6 separate regions of the Homo sapiens genome follow, and regions 1, 2, 3, 4 and 6 are each reported to be linked to region 5. Evidence: microRNA targets listed by miRTarBase, many of them from high-throughput screens and not tested one by one. Region 5 holds a microRNA gene; each other region holds the end of a gene's coding sequence.
The links. Region 5 holds the annotated microRNA hsa-miR-629-3p (GUUCUCCCAACGUAAGCCCAGC, at 975-996, opposite strand). A microRNA usually pairs through its seed, bases 2 to 8, with sites in the 3' UTR of a target mRNA and lowers its output. Matches are read on the target gene's strand: a 7mer-m8 pairs with bases 2 to 8, a 7mer-A1 pairs with bases 2 to 7 and ends in A, and an 8mer does both.

Region 1 (3,000 bases), not on the chromosome of region 5:
CCACCTCTGGCCTCTCTGGGCTCTTCCCTGGGGACTGATGCTGGACTAGATGAGCTTATTTTGGTTACGGAAATCTCTGGAAGGTGGGGAACCCCAAGAAAACACAATTCACACACTGTGGTACACAGGCTTACTTAAAACCATTTTTATTCTGCCTCTGAGCAACACTTTTCATTTGATTTGGGTAAAAGACCAGGGACCCAAACACGCACAAACAAAAAACAGGATGTCAGAAACAGAAATCAGGGTCCAATCTATTGGAATGATGCTAGAATCTCTGTGTGCTGAGATTTCGTGTCCCTGATTCAACGTCCTCCTGGGACAAGTGCTGGCTCATCACAACATCCGGGTAAAATGACAGGTTGAATCTGATGTTCATCAGAATTTTTTTTTTTTTTGCTAGGGTTCAGTATATGAAAAAATGCTGAAATTTGTATTGGTATAGTACTTAGAATTCTCCCCGCCAATGGTTAGTCACAACTATTACAACAATTAATTCTCATAACAGCACTGTGAGGTAAGTAGGCAGGCATTCTTATCCCCATTTTGCAGGTGAAGGAATTTTAGGCACAGAGAGGCTATGAAACTTGCCTAAAATCAGCTTGCATAGCTAGTTAGTGGCCAATAAAAACCCTGCAAAAACAAAAGGGCGTTGGAACTAGGTATTGACTCTCAGCCTCTTATTCATTCAATTAGAATAATCTGCCTTTCTTTTTTCTTTTTCTTTCGTTTTCTTTTCTTTTTTTTTTGAGATGGAGTCTTGCTCTGTCACCCCGGGCTGGAGTGTAGTGGCACAGTCTCAGCTCACGGCAACCTCCGCCTTCTGGATTCAAGTGATTCTCCTGCCTCAGCCTCTCTATTAGCTGGGATTACAGGCATGCACCACCACGCCTGGCTAATTTTTGTATTTTTAGTAGAGATGGAGTTTCACCATGTTGGTCAGGCTGGTCTCAAACTCCTGACCTTAAGTGATCTCAGCCTCTCAAATTGCTGGGATTACAGGCGTGAGCCACCACGCCCGGCCAGCATAATCTGCCTTTCTTTTGCTTCATTATCACCATCTTTCTGACATTAATTCTTTGAAGTGACTTTTGCCACATATACTTATCTGGTGTGTTAATTACTTGATATTTTCTTGAGTTCTCTTGTTTTTCTTAATTTATTTGAACAGAAACAATATGTCACATCCCCCACTGTGGGAAGCTGTAAATGGAAGGTAATAAATAAAATAAATACCATGACACAAAACAATATCATTAAATTCTATCTAGACAGAAGACTCTGAGGCCTGCTCTTTCTTTGCTAAAAAGGGAAAAGAGCCATAGTGTCTGAAAGGTGTAAAGGACCTGCTAGCACTAAACAGAGACTTTTTCCTTGCTGTAATCAGGATGAAAAAAGAATAGAAAAGGGGAAACATTCTTTGTGATTTGGTATTACTTAATGTTGTTCCTAGAAACTACTTAAAAATTATCTTGTGTACCACCAGTGGCACACCCCTTGTGCTCTGTGAGACACTGGGTTACTGCGTTCTGGCAGGCAGAATAATGGCATCATTAAACCAGTACATTCACATCTAAAGGGTTTACATTTGACAGAAAAGAAACACAATGGGTGGCATTTCCAGGTGGCATCCAGGAAAATCAAAGATCTTGCCTGAGACTTGCTAGAGATAGGAGAGAGAGTGAGAAATTGAAAAAAAAAAAGCACATTCTATAAATACAGCCAGTTTATTCCCAAAACTGGGATACAGGAAGTGCTCATGTACCTAGAATTGGCCACTAAGTCCATTCTCAGAGCCTGTTTGAGTGAAGAGTGAGGTTTTGGTCAAGTTGACCAACGTGGATGCAAGCAAGGGAGGGGGCCTATTTGGAAATATAAGCATCAAGACAAAAGGCCAGAAAAGCCCCTTCTTTGAGTGTTTGATGACCAGATGGGTGAACTCTGGGCATGGGAGTGCTGACTCCCAGAGGAGGAGTTACTGAAGGTTATAAGAATAAAAGGAAAAGCAAATCCACAACTTGAACTCTACTAGACAATTTTAAACATGCTGCAAATGTTTGTGCTCAACATTGTAAATACCAGCACCTGCTGCTCTTCCTAGAAACCTCCATCTCCCCCTATATGGAGACCCCCTGGATCCCCTCAGTGAAAAGTTATGTGATTTCCTGAGGCTCGCCTCTGGAGGACAGGAGTGGACACAACGGGATTCGCTAAACTGAGACAGTGAGACTTCATTTTTCTTTTTTCTGTTTTCTTTTCATTTTTACAAATCAATGACTTTGGCTGATCCGGCTGTGCAGCTTGGATTGCCTAAATTTTGGACTTTTTTTTTTTTTTTTTCTTGTTCATTTGCCAGGGACCTGCCTCTGGAGAGTCCTGGAGGAAAAGATCTCACAGTCTGAAGTCAAGGATCCATTCCTTAGAAACTCCTTTGGGGTGTGTGTGGATGAGGTCCATCCTCCACGCTCACAGCCCACTGACCGCTGGTTCCTCAGGCACTGTGTGGTACAGACAGAGAGAGAGAGAGAAAGACCGTGGGCTGAGCTTCTGTGGTTGGCTTTCCCAGCTCGATGCCTTCCTTATTTGATGATGATGACTCTGGTTAAACACATGTTGAAATGTACCAGCCTGCGTGCACACTTTTGACTCTAAGCAGGGGCTTCCTTTTGAGAAACATATTCTATTTGTAAAACTTATTTTATCTTACATGTGGTACGTGCAAAAAAACAAAAGCAAAAACAGGCCAGGCATGGTGGCTCACGCCTGTAATCCCAGCACTTTGGGAGGCTGAGGCGGGTGGATCACGAGGTCAGGAGATAGAGACCATCCTGGCTAACATGGTGAAACTGCATCTCTACTAAAAATACAAAAAAAATTAGCCGGGCGTGGTGGCGGGTGCCTGTAGTCCCAGCTACTTGGGAGGCTGAGGCAGGAGAATGGCGTGAACCCGGGAGGCGGAGCTTGCAGTGAGCCGAGATTGTGCCACTGCACTCCAGCCTG
Region 2 (3,000 bases), not on the chromosome of region 5:
GAGATGGCTTCAGCCATCAGAGGGAGTTCAGGAGTCTCTTTGCTAACACACATACAGATGTGTGTTCTGTGCATATTTGTGTGTGCATGTGTGTAAGCACAGGCGTGCATGGGCACCATCCCGCATGTACACGTAGGTGTCAGCATGGGTGCGAATGAGCGTGTGGGGAGTGGGGGGGTGGAATATCTTAGTGCACCAGGTGATTCATTAAAGGCAAAGGAAAATTGACCTCATGTGCAATATATACACAGACACAATGTTTTTACTCACTCCTGCTTCCTCCCAAATAATCCCTCACTGGGCTGGGCTTAAATAATTCCCTAATGCAAACTGGGAACTTCCTTAAATGGTTAAATGCTCAGCAGAGAGGGAAAGGGATGAAGTTATTTAAAAAAAAAAAAAAAAAAAAGATGAGAGGAAAGAAAAGAAAGCTGTGCGGCACGATCACAGGCCGGCAGCTGCAGATGTGCTGCCATGGAGATGCCAGATGCTGCAGAGGGTGGGGGCGGAGGTGGCAGGGGTGGAGCAGGTGTCCAGCTGACTCCACTGCAGCCCCCAGACAAGTCCAAGGAGGCCCCGAGAGCACCTTACTTCCTGGAGGGGCAGAACCTCAGCCCTTGGTTCTCCTTTGGGGAAGATTGTGCTTCCCTTCCCAGGCCTCCTTATTGGAGAAACCGCTTTTTGGACACTGGAGCTGGGCTGGCCTGTCTGCTGAGCCATCTTCCAGCATCTCCCCGTTCACATTTCCCAGGGGTCAAGTGCTTCAGGAAAAACTCATGGCTGGGTGTGCCCGTTCTTTGGGCCCCAGACCCTGACTTCCCTTCCCGGTCACCATTAGCACAGTGACTGACTTGGGGCTGTAGGAGAGTGGTCCAGGCTCTCTCTTACCTTGGCATGTTTCCCAAATCTCCTACTTGGGCTTCCTTGAACTCTGCTCACCCACCCCAACAGAGCATCATCTCTTGGGCAGGGCCAGCAGCGCCTGTACACAGTGCACAGAGGGAGCCCTGCTCCACGAAGGGGCTCACGCTGAATCAGACAGGCCCCTGTGGGCCATCTGCCACCCATCTCAGCGGTGGGGCAGGTGTTGGGCTGGCCTTACAGGGCTGGCTGAGGGCACAGAGGGCCTTGGACAATGTATGGAGTTAGATAGAAAGGCTTCTCCCTAAACCCTGGCATCCGTAAGTACCAAGTGGACGGGAAGATCCTGGCCACTGGATGTGGCTTTTTGCAGAACACTCCTTGGAGCAGATTGTGTATGTGTATGTGTGTGTGTGTGTGTGTGTGTGTGTGTAAAAGCATTCCCTCCCATCAGCTATTCTTGTCACTTGGTCCCATCTGACCTGCCCCTGCTGGGCGTGCAATTCAAATGCTGGGTCCACTTTGGACTGAGCTTCCTGACCTGCCCCTTCCCCTCCCCGCCCTGGCCAGGCGGAGCCCAGCCTGGAAGCTGTTACTGGGGGTTAGGGTGTCTTTGCCTTTTTGCCTGTAAACTGGGTGCTAGGCTGACTGAGCAAACTCTGGGTATTCCAGCCTCTGGACCAGGGACTTGGGCCACCCCTCTGGGCTCCTGTGCCTCTGTGCTTAGGAGGCTGCCGGGTGGCAGTGAGAGGGACACAGATCTGAAAGTGAGTGTGCTGTCTGGCTAGGAGGGCCCAGATGAGTTTGTTCTGGAGAGGATCCCTAGACCCTGTTCCTTGTAAGTGCATGGGAGATGTGTGTGTGTGTGTGTGTGTGGTGAGGATCTATCCAGTGGAGAGTGACGTGTCTGCCCAGAGGGAGATCCCTCAGCTGTGCCCCACTCCCCAGCCTTGGGAAGCTGACTACCCCTTTAAAGAGAGGACGGATGGAACCTGGATTGGAAGAAAGAGAACAGTCAAAGTGTCATTCTTATCTTGCCCACAATGCGTTAAACCTAATCATCCCACAGTGCCAAGGCCAGTCGCCTTATTTACACCTCTGCTCCCCAGACTTCACCTTTCCTTGTCCATGCTCAGGAAAGTCAATTCCAGCACAGGGAGGCAGGGGTCAGTTGTGGGGGGTTTCTCCCCTACCCTTGGGCTCTCTTCCTTGGATTCAATATTTTAAAAAATATGCAGGAACAAGGAAGGCGCTAAGCAAATTCTCACCCTTTAGTTTTTTGTTTTTTGTTTTTCTTCCTTTTTCTAAATAAACCAAATGCTTGGTGGAGAAGTTGAGCAGGGGAGATGGGCAGTAGAGGTTGCCAAGACAGGGCAGGGGGTCTGGATGAGGCTGTCCGATGCCTGCCAGCCACAGTGATGGTGCATGGAGGGAAGGAGGAGCAGAGAGAGAAGATAGGCGTGGCCTCCGGGATGCCCATTCTTTTTGCAGAGAGCAGCGGCAGTGGGTCCAGGGGTCCTGGAGGGGCTGGAAGGGGGCAGCTGGCTGGACATCCAGAAGCTTTTTCTTCCCTCGGCCACGCCTGCCTGGCGGCCTCCAGTCCTTAGCCTCCGCTCCCTCTCTCTCTCCAGATGCCCGCCCCACTCCGTGTCCATAGCAGTGACACAGCCACTTCCCCAGCTCCGTGTAATTCCCAAGGGAGCAGTGAACCCCACCATCTCAAAGCTGAAGAGCTGCTGGCCACACACATCCTCTCACGGTTTTCTCCCTCCTTCTGAACGCCGGCTTTGCTGGCCCTGGAATCTCTGGAAAAATAAACTCAGGAGGTGAAAAGTTGACTTGGTTTCTTGGTGTTTTTGTTTTCTGGCAGGCAGTGAGAGGAGGGGTGAAGGAGGAGTTTGGTGCCATTTCTCTTTCTGCTTTTTCCTCTTCTGATGTCAAACAAATGATGAAAATCCTGCTATGGGAGCCCGGGAGCCTGGGGCCAGGCTGCTGGGGGGACGGTAGAGGGTGCTCTGCTGACTTGGGGGGTTAGGGGGGTTCTGGGGCGTTGGAGTCCGACTGGCCTTGGGCCGAAAGAGGCTGCCCTGCTGGGTGCTGGTGCTGTTGGTGACGGTGGTGTGGTCTGGCTCACCCGAG
Region 3 (3,000 bases), not on the chromosome of region 5:
GATCTTAGCTTCTCGGTGTTAAAGGACATTTTAACACATTGTCAGGCCAAAGTAAAAGATTACCACCTCCCTGGAAACAAGCGAGCAAACACACATGGGCTCTGGAATCCAACAGATGTGGGTTCGGTTCTCTGCTGCCACACACAAGCTGCGTGGCCTTGGAGTGCAATAGCTACTCACAGGCATGATGATTACACATTACAGCCTTGAGTTTCTCACCTCAAGAGATCCTTCCACCTCAGCCTCCCAAGTAGCTGGGATTACAGGTGCAAGTCACTCTACCTTGCTGAGTCACAATAAAGGGCATATGGTAAAGGGTAGCAAAAACAACCTCTTGCCATGTATTTTAAAACAAGTGACAGAAGTTACTAATTTTTCTTGTCCTCTTCCTTCCTTTCCCCCCACTCCCCACCCCCCATTCTACCCCATGCCTCTGGCTTCCAGGAATCCTGACCTCTGTGAAGAGATCCTGGCATTTCTGGTCCAACCCAAGCCAGAGAACCATTAAGAAGGGGCCTTCATTCTGGATTCTCCGACGCAACACTGACGTCCCAGCTGCGACGTACTGTCACTGATGAGAGACTGGGAAGGGAAAAGCATATATATATAGATATATAGAGATATAGATATATATACAGGAAACACCGCATCCTTGCACTGCTGCTGGGGCTGGCAGAGCAGTTGGCTGACAGCAACAACCGACATCTGAACACCTACATTTCCTTTGCAGACAAATTGAAGAACTGGTGGGATTTTTTTCAAGAAAAAAAATTATATAATAACTATAATCCCTTGCTCACCCCTTTCCCCCGCCAAATAAGAAACGCAAGCCAGACCACGATGATTGTAGAAGTCCCTCCCGCCCTGGTTCTGCACGTTACAGTTAGCAGACGAGCAATTCCATTTGTTCTTCTCCAGCATCTCTAAGGCCCACTTGAATGCAAAGGAAAACACTTGCACAGCAAAGCAAGAGAAGTCACAGCAGCAAGACACGCACAGTCAACCATTTTCCGAGAAAAAAAGAAAATTCCCCACTTGGAAAGAAAGAGGAGGAACACTGGATTCTTACTTTCTGGATCTTGACACTGGGCTGCAAAACCTACCTTCCTCTCTCCCGCCTCCCCTCACCCTCAACTCTCAATGTCTTGCTGTCATTTTCTGTCTCGGCTCCCTCCTCCCCCTTCCCCCTTCCCCCACCCCACACCCTTCACCCTCTGTGTCCTGGTCCTTCTGAGGGCCACTGCAGATGACTCTCCTTTGAAATGAGAAAAAGAAAAGAAAGCAAGAACAGAAAACGAAGCCACAGGAAGGGAAGTAGACATTGTATGCTTATGGTTTCTCATTATGAAGGTGCAGCTTGTAGGAGGTTTGTACGGATGTGCTTTGAAGTTATGTATATTACATATAACAGGAAAAAATATTAAAATAAACAGTGCTGGTAAGTATGAAGCTGACATTCTAAAATTATAATTATCTGACTGTGATTGATGTATCCTGAGGTTCCTAGATCTCACTGAACTGGCCCAGCTAAGGAGACCTGGACTCTGGGTGTGGGTTGGCTCACAGTAGGGGCTGACGGGTTCAGTGTAGTAATACTGTGTGTGGTGTTTGTAATTGGTTGATTGGTGGGGAGGGGTGGGGGGCCCTAATGGAGAGGTGTGGGTTTGGCAAGAAAGAAGCAACACAGATGTCGTCCCCAAAATGCCAGTTCAAGACACCTTCTCCCTGCCCCCCTGGTAGTAACAGTCAGGGCCTGGTCTGTGCTCAGGTACTGGGTCCCAGTCTGGGACTCTGCTGCTGAAGTTGCCACAGTAGAGGTCCCTGGCTTAGTCCTTATCTCCCTACGGGGCTTGCCTTGGTTTTCAGTCTTCTCTCTCTTTCTCTCTTTTTTTTTTTTTTGCCACATTCTGCCCTTCCCTGACCCCATTGTAATAACCAACTCCATATCCAAAGGGAGGTGGTGCTCTCAGCCATTGTAGAAGATGGTGGCTTTAACCTGACTGTCTAAAAATTCCCAGCTAAGCCTTTTCCTCTACTCTCTTCCTTGTTCTGAATCATTTCTTCTTCTCAGGCCAAAGTAGCCATGGTAAGGAGGCTTCATGGGGCAGACCCTGAAAGATCAAAACTGCATTTGCAAAGCCCTCCCCTGTCCCAGGACAAAGCTGAGACTGACGGGTGATGTTGCTCATAGGCTCCAGCTCTGCATAAGACCTTGGCTTGGAGACCTCCCTCTCAGTCAACAGCTGAACTCTGAGCTTGTGCCCAGAAATTACCCCAAGACCACAGGAACCCTTCAAGAAGCTCCCATCACAAGCTTGGCATTGCTCTCTGCCACACGTGGGCTTCCTCAGGCTTGTCTGCCACAAGCTACTTCTCTGAGCTCAGAAAGTGCCCCTTGATGAGGGAAAATGTCCCACTGCACTGCGAATTTCTCAGTTCCATTTTACCTCCCAGTCCTCCTTCTAAACCAGTTAATAAATTCATTCCACAAGTATTTACTGATTACCTGCTTGTGCCAGGGACTATTCTCAGGCTGAAGAAGGTGGGAGGGGAGGGCGGAACCTGAGGAGCCACCTGAGCCAGCTTTATATTTCAACCATGGCTGGCCCATCTGAGAGCATCTCCCCACTCTCGCCAACCTATCGGGGCATAGCCCAGGGATGCCCCCAGGCGGCCCAGGTTAGATGCGTCCCTTTGGCTTGTCAGTGATGACATACACCTTAGCTGCTTAGCTGGTGCTGGCCTGAGGCAGGGCAGGAAATCAGAATAGCATTTGCTTCTCTGGGCAAATGGGAAGTTCAGCGGGGCAGCAGAATCAGTGGCATTCCCCCTGGTGCAGGCCGGTGGGTCCACTCCAACTCCCCCTGAGTGTAGCAGCACACTTTCCATACACCAGGTTCTTTCTACAATCCTGGTGGAAAAGCCACAGAACCTTCTTCCTGCCCTTCTTGAGAGTTCCCCCTCTTTCTGGGTCAAGAGCTGGAGTGGTGGCTCCATCCT
Region 4 (3,174 bases), not on the chromosome of region 5:
TCAACTTTTAAATTTCTATACAATAGGCTTATGACTTGGAGAAGAAGAAAAGACAACAACCCTTAGTAGGTGAGCCTTATGTTTTAATTCATGGAATTAGAGATTAGTCGTGAGGCTACAAAGATCCAATATTTTCAAAACCTGATGATTTTTTATGTTAGAGTGACTCCAAATTGATGCGAGTCTGGAGTCAGGGAGTTACCCAGTTCCAGTATAGTGCCACTGACGCTTAAGTAGCCTCACCAAACCATGCCATTAGGGAGCAGTTTTTAAATAACTATCAAATTATACAGTGACAGCATCATTTTATTTCATACACAATCTCCTTCCCCTGCAGGCCAACTGCTTTAGAATGTGCACTTCCATTGGAACCCCTATTTTCTTACAGCATGTCGGCAAGTCTGTGTTCCTAATCAACTGTGAAATTTCATGAAGGTGGGTACTCTGTTCTAATCTCAGAATGTGGTACAGCATTATGGCATGAAACAGAACTCAATAAACACTAACTGAATAAAGAAATGGGTAAAATAAAGATTAAAGCGAGGATTTTTCAAGAAAAATTGTATCTTTTTAAAAATTGTATGCAATAATGTGGATTCTCTAAAATGACTAGTAGGAGAGAGAGGAGGGACCAACTTATAAGGAAGCTTTCAAATGTTATTGTTAGTCACATGGGCCTTTGTGAGAGGGTTGGGAGAAGTCTCTGGAATAGAAAATAAATAGAAAAGGAATATGTTTTTGGAGTATAAATGATCATTACCTTGTTTCAGGAGCCACAGTTCACCCAGAGGCCAGAGGCCTGGCTGAGTTGTTTGTCCTAAACTTAATATATTTGCTATATAGTTCTGTTAATGAATAGAATTCTGTAAACCAATAATTACACTTTATGTCTTAATTGAGCACTTAGAAATTCAAGATACATGAATTATTTTTCTGAGCTATTTACCAAGCCTATTTAAACTTGTGAGTTTTAAAAATGAAGCAAACTCTTTCCCTGAGATAAGCTTTTTACTTCTTTTGCAAGGTAGCTATTTCAGTAATATTTGGTATGGCACTATAATGAAATCTGTCAGGAATTAGAAGGATGAGTACTTTACTATAACTGAAAAATGAGCATGTTTGAGAATTTCTGATAACACTAATGAGTTAGTGTTTCAAATGAAAATAATTAAGTCAACAAAAAGAAATTCTTCTTGGATCAGTCTTCAGGACTGAGTAATACTGATAAAGAAATATCACTTGAAAGGAGCTTTTTGTCTTTAAATGAAGATAAATTAAAAGGGTAACTAGGATTTGCCACCTGCAATACTGATACCTACTAGCACAGAATCAAAGCTAGAGTATAAAAGAAAATTCTCTATAAGTCACTGGGCAATTTTTAAGAACTCATTTTTTGGGGGGAGCAAGAAAAGTAGTCAGACAAATCAGTCCAAGGTGAGGTATCTTTGGAAAATTTAATTTGGACCATATTTTCTTCCTCTTTCTGAAAACATCAAATATCCCCATACAGTTTGGGTTCCACAGCTTACAAAGGGGCAGTGGGTTTCCCGCAGTTACATACTGTACCCAACTTTCTATAGAAAGATAAAACATTTTCCAACCTTGCTTTTGAGTATTTCCTAAAAAATGCTTTAAAGTTTCCTTACAATAAATGGCAAGTAAAACAAAGTAAGGCTTTTTTTTTCTCCTTTTCCCCTTTTTATGTACTGCATGTTCGAGGAATAAGGAAGGAAGACTAGTTCCATCAGAGTACTAGTAATCCTAGTACCCTGGGGATTACTGCTGGATCCTCCCAGGTATACCCCTATTATTGAGGCCCTGATGCACCCCTGCACTGAGGAACCTGAGAAGGGTAAGTACTAAACAGTCTGTCATAGCCACGTGGGACTGTCACAGCACAGGTGGGACTGGGAGTCGCCCAGTTCTTCTCGGTGCTCACAGGAGTAACAAAGGAACTAGGACTAAACCATAACCAGAGGTCTCCCACGTGGTACTACAGTACCACACGTTCACTTTTGTGGCCCTTACAAATGCACATTTATAGACCCAATGTATTTACTGGAAAAAAAAAGAAAAAAATGCCTTTACTAATTTCTGTATCAAATTATTAGAATGAAAATAAAAGCATTTGTCTGATAAAACACACTTTCTATGTTAGATGAAAATAACTCCCTTGCAAGATAAGCTTGGTAATGTGTATTTGTCACTATTTATATATTTTTGCTTAGTACACACATTTCTTTAATAGCATCATCTGAACAGCTTTGTCATTTTTCAAACCTGTAGTTTCATTAGCTTAAAAAAAGGATAAGGCAGCCAAATTTAATGAATTTTGGTTGCAGAAAAACATCTCAGGTATTAACTCTCATCTTCAAATATTAAGAGCACATAATTAAAAGATAAAGTTTCTTCTCTTAACAGGAAACTAAGCAGCTATTGTCATCAAATGTACTTTTACATGTACTTTTTAGTGAAGGGCCCCCTCATAAATATAAAATTAAATTCTTTTGAGGAATAGGTTTGTGATTTTAGTTATGCAGGATTTACATTTATCCTTTACATTTTGTAGTAAAAAATGTGTGGTCTTTGCTTATTTTCATGAAGTGATTTCTTCATCTCAGCAGGCTCTCACATACAAACGGCAGGCTGGGTTACTCAGCTTGTTTCTGAAAGGGGAGGCAGCCACATGTCATGTGCTCTTAGAATCCTTGCAAAAACTCCTGTAGCTGGGTGACAATCTCCGTATCCACTGTTTCCATGAGGGACTGGAAACCTTGTTCTCCTAGCATCTCCTGCTGTGCCTTGAGCTTCTCGTAGATGAACTGCTGCAGTGACACTGTATGAACAGGGTCCTTCAGGGCCAGCTGTGGGATACAGAGAGGAGCAAGACTGTCAAAAAAGCAAAACAAGTCTCTCCTACCTGCAATTTACAAAAGTTCTTTGTAATCTCTTCTACAGTAACAAAATTGCTTCTGCCTCTCTTCTCACACAGATTCTGTACTAATCTCATGGTGGAAAAATCTGTCAAAGAAAATTTCATTCAATTAGTCTTAACTTCAGTTCCCTAGCGCCCCCTGAACATGTTTTCTGATCAGGCATTTCTCAAGAGCTGGGGGACTCATTCATTTAAAGCATCAAAGCCTAGTAGAAAGCATTCTAAAAGAAACAGAACAT
Region 5 (3,174 bases):
AAAACCAACCTTACTGTTTAGGAAGCTCACAGGTCCAAGGCCTGTTATCTTAAACAACAATAGAGCAGTGTCTGGCACACAGTAGCTGCTCCGTAAATGTTTGGCCCAAAGAATAGTATCACTGGCATCTCTGCATTTATTGAGACTTCATATTGCAGTGACCCCTTGCTGTGGATCTGGGCCTGCCCCAGCATGGGCAGCATCTGTGGGAGGGGCCGTGGTGGATGGAGTGTTGACATACACTTGGTGGCCAGTGGCCCAAGCCCTTCACCAACGGGGTGGGGTGGCACCTCCAAGCCAGGCCAATCGCAAGCCACCTAGATGGGTCCCTGGCCACTACTCCTCCCCACAGCCAGGAAGGCAGGGGCAAGGTCAGAACATCCCCAGTCATTCTGGCCTCCTCAGCAACTATTAACTCTCACAGTCTCTGGGAGAGCAGGGAGGCAGGGTGATTATAAAAGGGTTCTGGCTATGGCCTCCTTCCACTGGTAAACAGGCCAAGGGTCAGGGTCTCGGGAGTTGACAAAAAAGAAACGTAGCTGACCTTGCCCTTCCCCACACCCTTCAGCAAACACGTGGCCAAAGGCTTCCCACAGACAGGATCTTCCCATAGGGCTGGTCTGGAGCCCAGCTCACTCTGGTTATGAGGACAACGGATCTCCCAGGATTTATGTAGCCATCCGGGCCATCAGGTGACCACAGCTGGGTGGCTCAGGGCAAGTCCTCTCTCATTCTCACCCCTCCACCCTCCTAAAGTAGTTCCTGCCTCCCAACACCACAAACAAGCATCAACTGAGGGCTATCGCAACAATGCCACACAGATGCAGAACCTTCCACAAGCCTGGGGTAGTGGCATTCAGGCTGTCTTTCCTGAGGCCCATGTTCGACGAAGAGAGGCCTCTCTGCAAGGCAGGAAGGACTTTGGCACGTCACCAGACAGGACTGTGTAGGGTTGAGGCAGGCAGAGGGGAGGGGCTGGGCTTACGTTGGGAGAACCTCCTGGTTCACCGTAAAAGTTCTCCCAACGTAAACCCAGCCCCTCCCCTGGGAAAGGGACATGAAGCAAGCACATCCCATCCCTCCCAGCTGTCACTGTGCCATCATCTGCTAGTACCCTCTTGGGGTCTCCCCACAAAGTGGAAGCAGGGATTGGGCCTCCCCCATCTCTACAAAGGCTGCCCAACCCTGAGAATGGGCTGCGTGCACTCTGCAGAGTCAAAGCATGAACAGGAAAGCTGTTCGCTCAACATTTTAAAGAAATGTTTATTTTTTGGAGGGTGGCGCTTGGGGGAGGGGAAGTTCCTGGAAATGGAAAGCTGGCTTAACAGAAGCCCTCCTAACAACAGTAATGACCGCTGATATCACCCACCCAACTCGCCATGTGTGCATCCACAATAACCCCGCGGAGAAGGCGCTTGTCAACATCTCCACTTTTCAGATGGGGAAACTGATGCCCAGCCATTAAGTGATTTCACTAAATGACTTCCTACCAAGAAGCCAAATTTTGACATTTCAAGAGAGCTTAGAGAAATATTTTTGAAAGAAAAACCACCATTAAGGTTAATAATTGACAGCACTTCTGATTAGAACAGCTGTTAAAACAGCATTGGATCCAACTCAAACAAGCTCTAAACATCAGTTCCAAAAAAGGAAAAAAAAAAAAAAAAATCAAGTGTGACTTCAACAATTGGGACAGGTCACAAATCACAAACTGGAACTCGATCGTATGTTGGAAAACTCCTTTTGGCAACTTGGCGCAATCCGTTATCGATAAGGCGGCTGTAGTTTCCAGAGGCCGACCTCCATCCTTCCCTCCATCTCGGTCCCACAAAGCCACTGCTTTTGAGCCAGGTCTTCAGAAGCGAATCTGAGAGGTGGTGGGAGGTGGGAAGATGGCTCCCTTTGGAAAGCACTTTGGAAAAGGTGTTCAGGGAGGCTGGTGCCGCCTTTGAAAGTTTCTTTTCAAGTATGGTTCAAAGCAGGCGCTTTGTTGGTGGAAAAACATTGTTCCTCAGAAGGAACTAATCTACTAGATACAGACAGAGAAGCAGTTCAGAGAAATGGGGACAGAGGTCCTGCTACATCCGGAATCTGCACTACCAACTGGGCGCTGGGAGTAACATCTGCCCTGCATCTCTGTCAAGATTGTTAGGCAAATAAATGACAGAAAACAAGATAGTGGGGGGCAAGTGTAATTTCCCAAACAGCAATCTGTTCCATGCGCCTTAGTAGCTCCCATTTGCATGATCATCTCCTCATTAAAGCAGGACCTCTGAACATCTTGCTGTAAACCGAGGGTACTTGAGCATTCTAAAAGTCTATTTCTCTAACCACAGTCTAGTATTCACGTTTGCTGCTACTTCAGACTATCCTTGGCCCTTGACCCAAGACACTAAATTAAGGGAAACGGAGCCTGCTCTTGATCTGTACCCCCCAGCAACCTCCTGCTCCTGGGCTTGCAGCACCCAGCCAGTCCTTGCCCTTATTTTTAATTTAGGTGACTGTGTCCAACACACCGTCGAGAGCTACTTCCACCAGAGAGTCTGTCTGCTAGTTAGTTTTAAACTGCCCTGTCGTGTGTACCTGTGGACTCTGAATGCACAATTCCTTTTAACCTCAGCCAAATAAAGGCAAGGAGAAGAGAAAACTGCCCCTTCAAAGAGTGTGTTATGCTCCAACGCCACGCAGAGATGAGCTGGCTTCTACCTCCAATTCTGCCTCCATTTAGTTGTGTGGCTTTGGGCAAATCACTTCCCTTCTCTAGGCATTAATTTCGTTGTCTGCAAAATGAAGGGATTAACTAGATAACGTATAAGATCCAGGAGCCCTAATTTAGAGTTTTAGAACCCTAAATATTCCCGAATTGGCGTGCAGCTTATCATTTCCTCCATAAAACAGAGCATCACATGAATTTACAAAAGACCAGCAGAGAAGAGCCAAGCCACCTTGAGATGTGGATGGATGCTGGCTGGTTGCTGGGCAGCTGGCTGACCTGGGCTGGGTCCCAAGGACCAGTCTTCAGAGCACGAGCCATTCAAATCTGTCCATCAGCAAAACTGCGCTTCACTGTGGAAGAGCCTCTAGGCAAGAACAATGATATCATACTTCTAAGTGTCAAGCCCCTACTGTGCAGTTTCTGTGATTCAAAAGGGAAGACTGGTTGGTGAGGCTAAG
Region 6 (3,174 bases), not on the chromosome of region 5:
TGCCTCGTCAGCATCACCATGTTGTACTCATTGTATGACATTCAGAGATTTCAAAGTGATTTAAAACAGTTAAATATACAATCAAACTTTGGTGCTCTGAAAAAAAATATTTCCTCTTTTTAGTATCTAACTACATGTCATCTGCTTTTTTATTCAGGCAACTCCGGAGGTGCCCTGGAAGTCATTGCCTGACAATAACTGATGTTCCCGTCACTGTTTATGCAACAACGAGAAAGCCACCTGCACAAAGCAGCAAGGAAATGCATCCTAAATAGCACCATTAAGTCTTTTGTCAAGGTCTGACTAGGTCAAGGGTAATGGACCAGTATCATCTGGTGATCTGGTAAACAAATAAAAGTGGTGGCACCTTTAGATGATGACAACAGTTGAGCTCTTTACTTTTAGTAAGACCGACAGAAATGTAGTCAGTAAAGCACATGTAGTGATAGGCTATCAGTTATGTCTGATACATAAGACAGAATAATATTTCACAATTAGAAAGTACCTTAGAGATCATCTTGCTCACAGTAGATCATTAATATCAATAATTAAAGATGAAGCTTAATCCACCATGGTCATCAGTCAGGTGGGGCTTATTCTAAATGCTTAATGTGTCTTAAGCTCATTTCCTTGTTCATATTTGGGTTGCTACTTGGCTAAATCCTTTCACCTTAGTACCCTAAGCCAGTTTCCTGGCTTGATACTATTTGATAATGCTCTGCTCAGGAATGATTATATTGGGTGAGAAATGGAGCCCTGGGGTTGTGTGTTTTGGAACAGTATTCAAGATCAAAGAAAGTTCTTAGTCCATGGTTAATCTGCAAGGCATTTAAGCCACTTCCATAGAGGAGCCCAGATTGTTGGTTAAATATATTGATAATGAAGTCAAAGCTGTGGTTCCAACCCCGATTTTTCCAAGAAAAATGACGTCTGGTTATCACTTTGTACACGAAGTGCTAACCAGGTATCTTGATAAATTGTTTACAGTAGGTATTGAGAAACCTCATGTGGATTTTTTAATTTGGTTAGATGTGGGATCACTTTTGAGGATGAGGCCAGCTCTCTATGTTCTCTTTTTCTTCTTGCAGTAGTCCCCAGAAACTCAGTCTGCTTTCCTTTTCTCTCGATGGCTGTCAGCACCCATCTAATGAAATTGTCTTCTCCAAAAGACTGACTTTAGGATCAGATACAATTTTCACCAGTGTTTTTTGTCTACCTTGCTGCTTCTGAAAATATACATATAAGCCTTTTAAAATGAAAAGTTTATTAACTTATAATTAAATAGACGTAGATGCATATGTGTTGCATTAGGTGAAAAGAAAAACTGCCAGGGAGTTATAAGAGGAAAAACTCTCAGAGCTCACACTGAGCTGGGAGAAGTTTGAATGCCAACCAGTTAAAGTGGAAAGATCTTGAACATGTGGGGCATTGAGTAGAGACTCAGAAAGGTTGTACTTTCATAAGAGATCCAAACTGGAGCTAGACTAAAGGCTAATGTATACCAATTTTAAGAAAGCTTAAAAATAAGCCTTGAGAGACTCAAGATGATCTCTAAGTAACCTCATTTTATCTGCCAAATAAAAATAGAACATTCCTTAAAGGAAGAAAACAAAATCGAGGCAGGAAATTGCCTGAGGCTGGAGAAAAAATGACAGGAAGGAGAAAGGAGTGATGAAAAATTCCTCAGAGGGCTGGGCTTGGTGGCTCATGCCTGTAATCCTGGCACTTTGGGAGGCCGAAGTGGATGGATTATCTGAGGTCAGGCATTCGAAGCCAGCCTGGCCAACATGGTGAAACCCCGACTCTACTAAAAATACAAAAATTAGTCGGGTATGATGGGCAGGTGCCTGTAATTCCAGCTACTTGGGAGGCTGAGGCAGGAAAATAGCTTGAACCCAGGAGGCAGAGGTTGCAGTGAGCTGAGATTGCATCACTGTGCTCCAGCCTAGGCAACAGAGTGAGACTTTGTCTCAAAAAAAAAGAAAAACAAAGAAAAATTCCTCAGAGCTCATACAAGGCTGGGTAGAATATGTGTTTCAACAATAGTGGATCTTTTAATATAGTACATGGATCATTGAGTAGAGTCTTCAGCAAAATATTGGCAAAGTAGGGTTAGGGTTAGGTTAGGGAGATGGGAATAGACTGAAGACTACTCTGGACTTGCCCTAACAGAGTTTAAGAGCAACATTTGAAAGGATCAAACTGATTTCAAGTAACTTGAGTGCATCCAAGGGGAGAAAACCCATCAAAATAAAAATAAAAACTACAATAAAATCCAGCACCAAAAGTGTAACATTCACAATGATTAGCATCTAATAAAAAGTTACCAGGCATGAAAAAAAAAAGGAAAAGGCAATCCACAGTCAAGAGAATCTTTAGTCAATGGTAATAGACTGAGAATGACAGATGATGGCATTAGTAAATGATATGGTTTGGCTCTGCGTCCCAACGCAAATCTCATGTTGAATTGTAACCCCCAGTGTTGGGGGAGGGACCTGATAGGAGGTGACTGGATTATGGTGAACACCTATATGGATATGAATATGGAGTATTCTCCATGGATATGGAGAACACCCCTTGGTGTTCTCATAATAGTGAATGAGTTCTCATGAGATCTGGTTGTTTAAAAGCGTGTAGCACTTCCTTCTTTTCCCTCTGTGTCTCCTGCTCCACCATGGTAAGATGTGCTTGCTTCCCTTTGCCTTCTGCCATTGTAAGTTTCCTGAGGCCTCCTAGCCATGCTTCCTGTTAAGCCTGTGGAACTGCATCATTTAAACCTCCTTTCTTCCTAAATTACACAGTCTCAGGTAGTTCTTTATAGCAGTGTGAAAATGGACAAATACAGTAGATCAGCTACCATAAATATCGTTCAAGTAGTAGATAAAAACATAATGAAGAAATAAATGGAAGGTATAAAAATGACCCAAATAGAACTTTTAGAGATGAAAAATACAATATCTGAAGTAAGAATATACACTGAATAGGATTAAGAGATTAGATACTGGAGAAGAAAATATTAATGAACTTGAATATATAGCTATATAAATTATCCAACATTAAGTACAAAGAAAAAAGCGTATAAGTTTTGTGTTTCATTATCAAGCAGTCTAATATATATGTAAGTGGCTTCTCAGAAGAATGGAGGGGGATAGAAAAATATTTGAAGAAATAATG

Region 1: the mRNA of TMEM233 is a reported target of hsa-miR-629-3p. Seed matches in the 3' UTR shown: 7mer-m8 at 455-461.
Region 2: the mRNA of SDK2 is a reported target of hsa-miR-629-3p. Seed matches in the 3' UTR shown: 8mer at 2,623-2,630, 8mer at 2,043-2,050 and 7mer-m8 at 1,160-1,166.
Region 3: the mRNA of EPB41L1 is a reported target of hsa-miR-629-3p. The part of its 3' UTR that is shown has no 7-base or 8-base seed match.
Region 4: miRTarBase lists IPO11 as a target of hsa-miR-629-3p. Seed matches in the 3' UTR shown: 7mer-A1 at 1,682-1,688.
Region 6: the mRNA of FAM229B is a reported target of hsa-miR-629-3p. Seed matches in the 3' UTR shown: 7mer-m8 at 1,373-1,379, 7mer-A1 at 1,640-1,646, 7mer-A1 at 1,659-1,665 and 8mer at 2,233-2,240.

What each region holds. Positions count from the first base shown.
Region 1 is chr12:119,640,197-119,643,196 of GRCh38, reverse strand. It overlaps TMEM233 (transmembrane protein 233), which reads right to left. Exons shown (of 3, transcript NM_001136534.3): 3 at 122-2,498. The coding sequence ends at 2,492. The region is part of intron 1 of PRKAB1-AS1 (PRKAB1, TMEM233 and CCDC60 antisense RNA 1); the gene reads left to right. Among named protein-coding and RNA genes, the nearest start is that of PRKAB1-AS1, 26 kb to the left of the region's middle.
Region 2 is chr17:73,335,789-73,338,788 of GRCh38, forward strand. SDK2 (sidekick cell adhesion molecule 2) reads right to left here. Exons shown (of 45, transcript NM_001144952.2): 45 at 1-3,000. The coding sequence ends at 2,799. Among named protein-coding and RNA genes, the nearest start is that of CDC42EP4, 25 kb to the left of the region's middle. RefSeq lists an enhancer at 944-1,843.
Region 3 is chr20:36,228,888-36,231,887 of GRCh38, forward strand. EPB41L1 (erythrocyte membrane protein band 4.1 like 1) reads left to right here. Exons shown (of 22, transcript NM_012156.2): 22 at 445-3,000. The coding sequence ends at 453. The region is part of intron 1 of LOC105372602 (a long non-coding RNA gene); the gene reads right to left. Among named protein-coding and RNA genes, the nearest start is that of AAR2, 6.1 kb to the right of the region's middle.
Region 4 is chr5:62,626,844-62,630,017 of GRCh38, reverse strand. It overlaps IPO11 (importin 11), which reads right to left. Exons shown (of 30, transcript NM_016338.5): 30 at 1,436-2,864. The coding sequence ends at 2,700. It overlaps IPO11-LRRC70 (IPO11-LRRC70 readthrough), which reads right to left. Exons shown (of 4, transcript NR_073584.1): 4 at 1,429-2,864. Among named protein-coding and RNA genes, the nearest start is that of LRRC70, 50 kb to the right of the region's middle.
Region 5 is chr15:70,078,413-70,081,586 of GRCh38, forward strand. It overlaps MIR629 (microRNA 629), which reads right to left and starts at 1,056; the gene lies at 960-1,056. All of the region lies in intron 4 of TLE3 (TLE family member 3, transcriptional corepressor), which reads right to left. RefSeq lists enhancers at 1-513, 514-1,120.
Region 6 is chr6:112,100,513-112,103,686 of GRCh38, forward strand. FAM229B (family with sequence similarity 229 member B) reads left to right here. Exons shown (of 4, transcript NM_001033564.3): 4 at 158-2,278. The coding sequence ends at 275. Among named protein-coding and RNA genes, the nearest start is that of FAM229B, 15 kb to the left of the region's middle. RefSeq lists an enhancer at 1-520.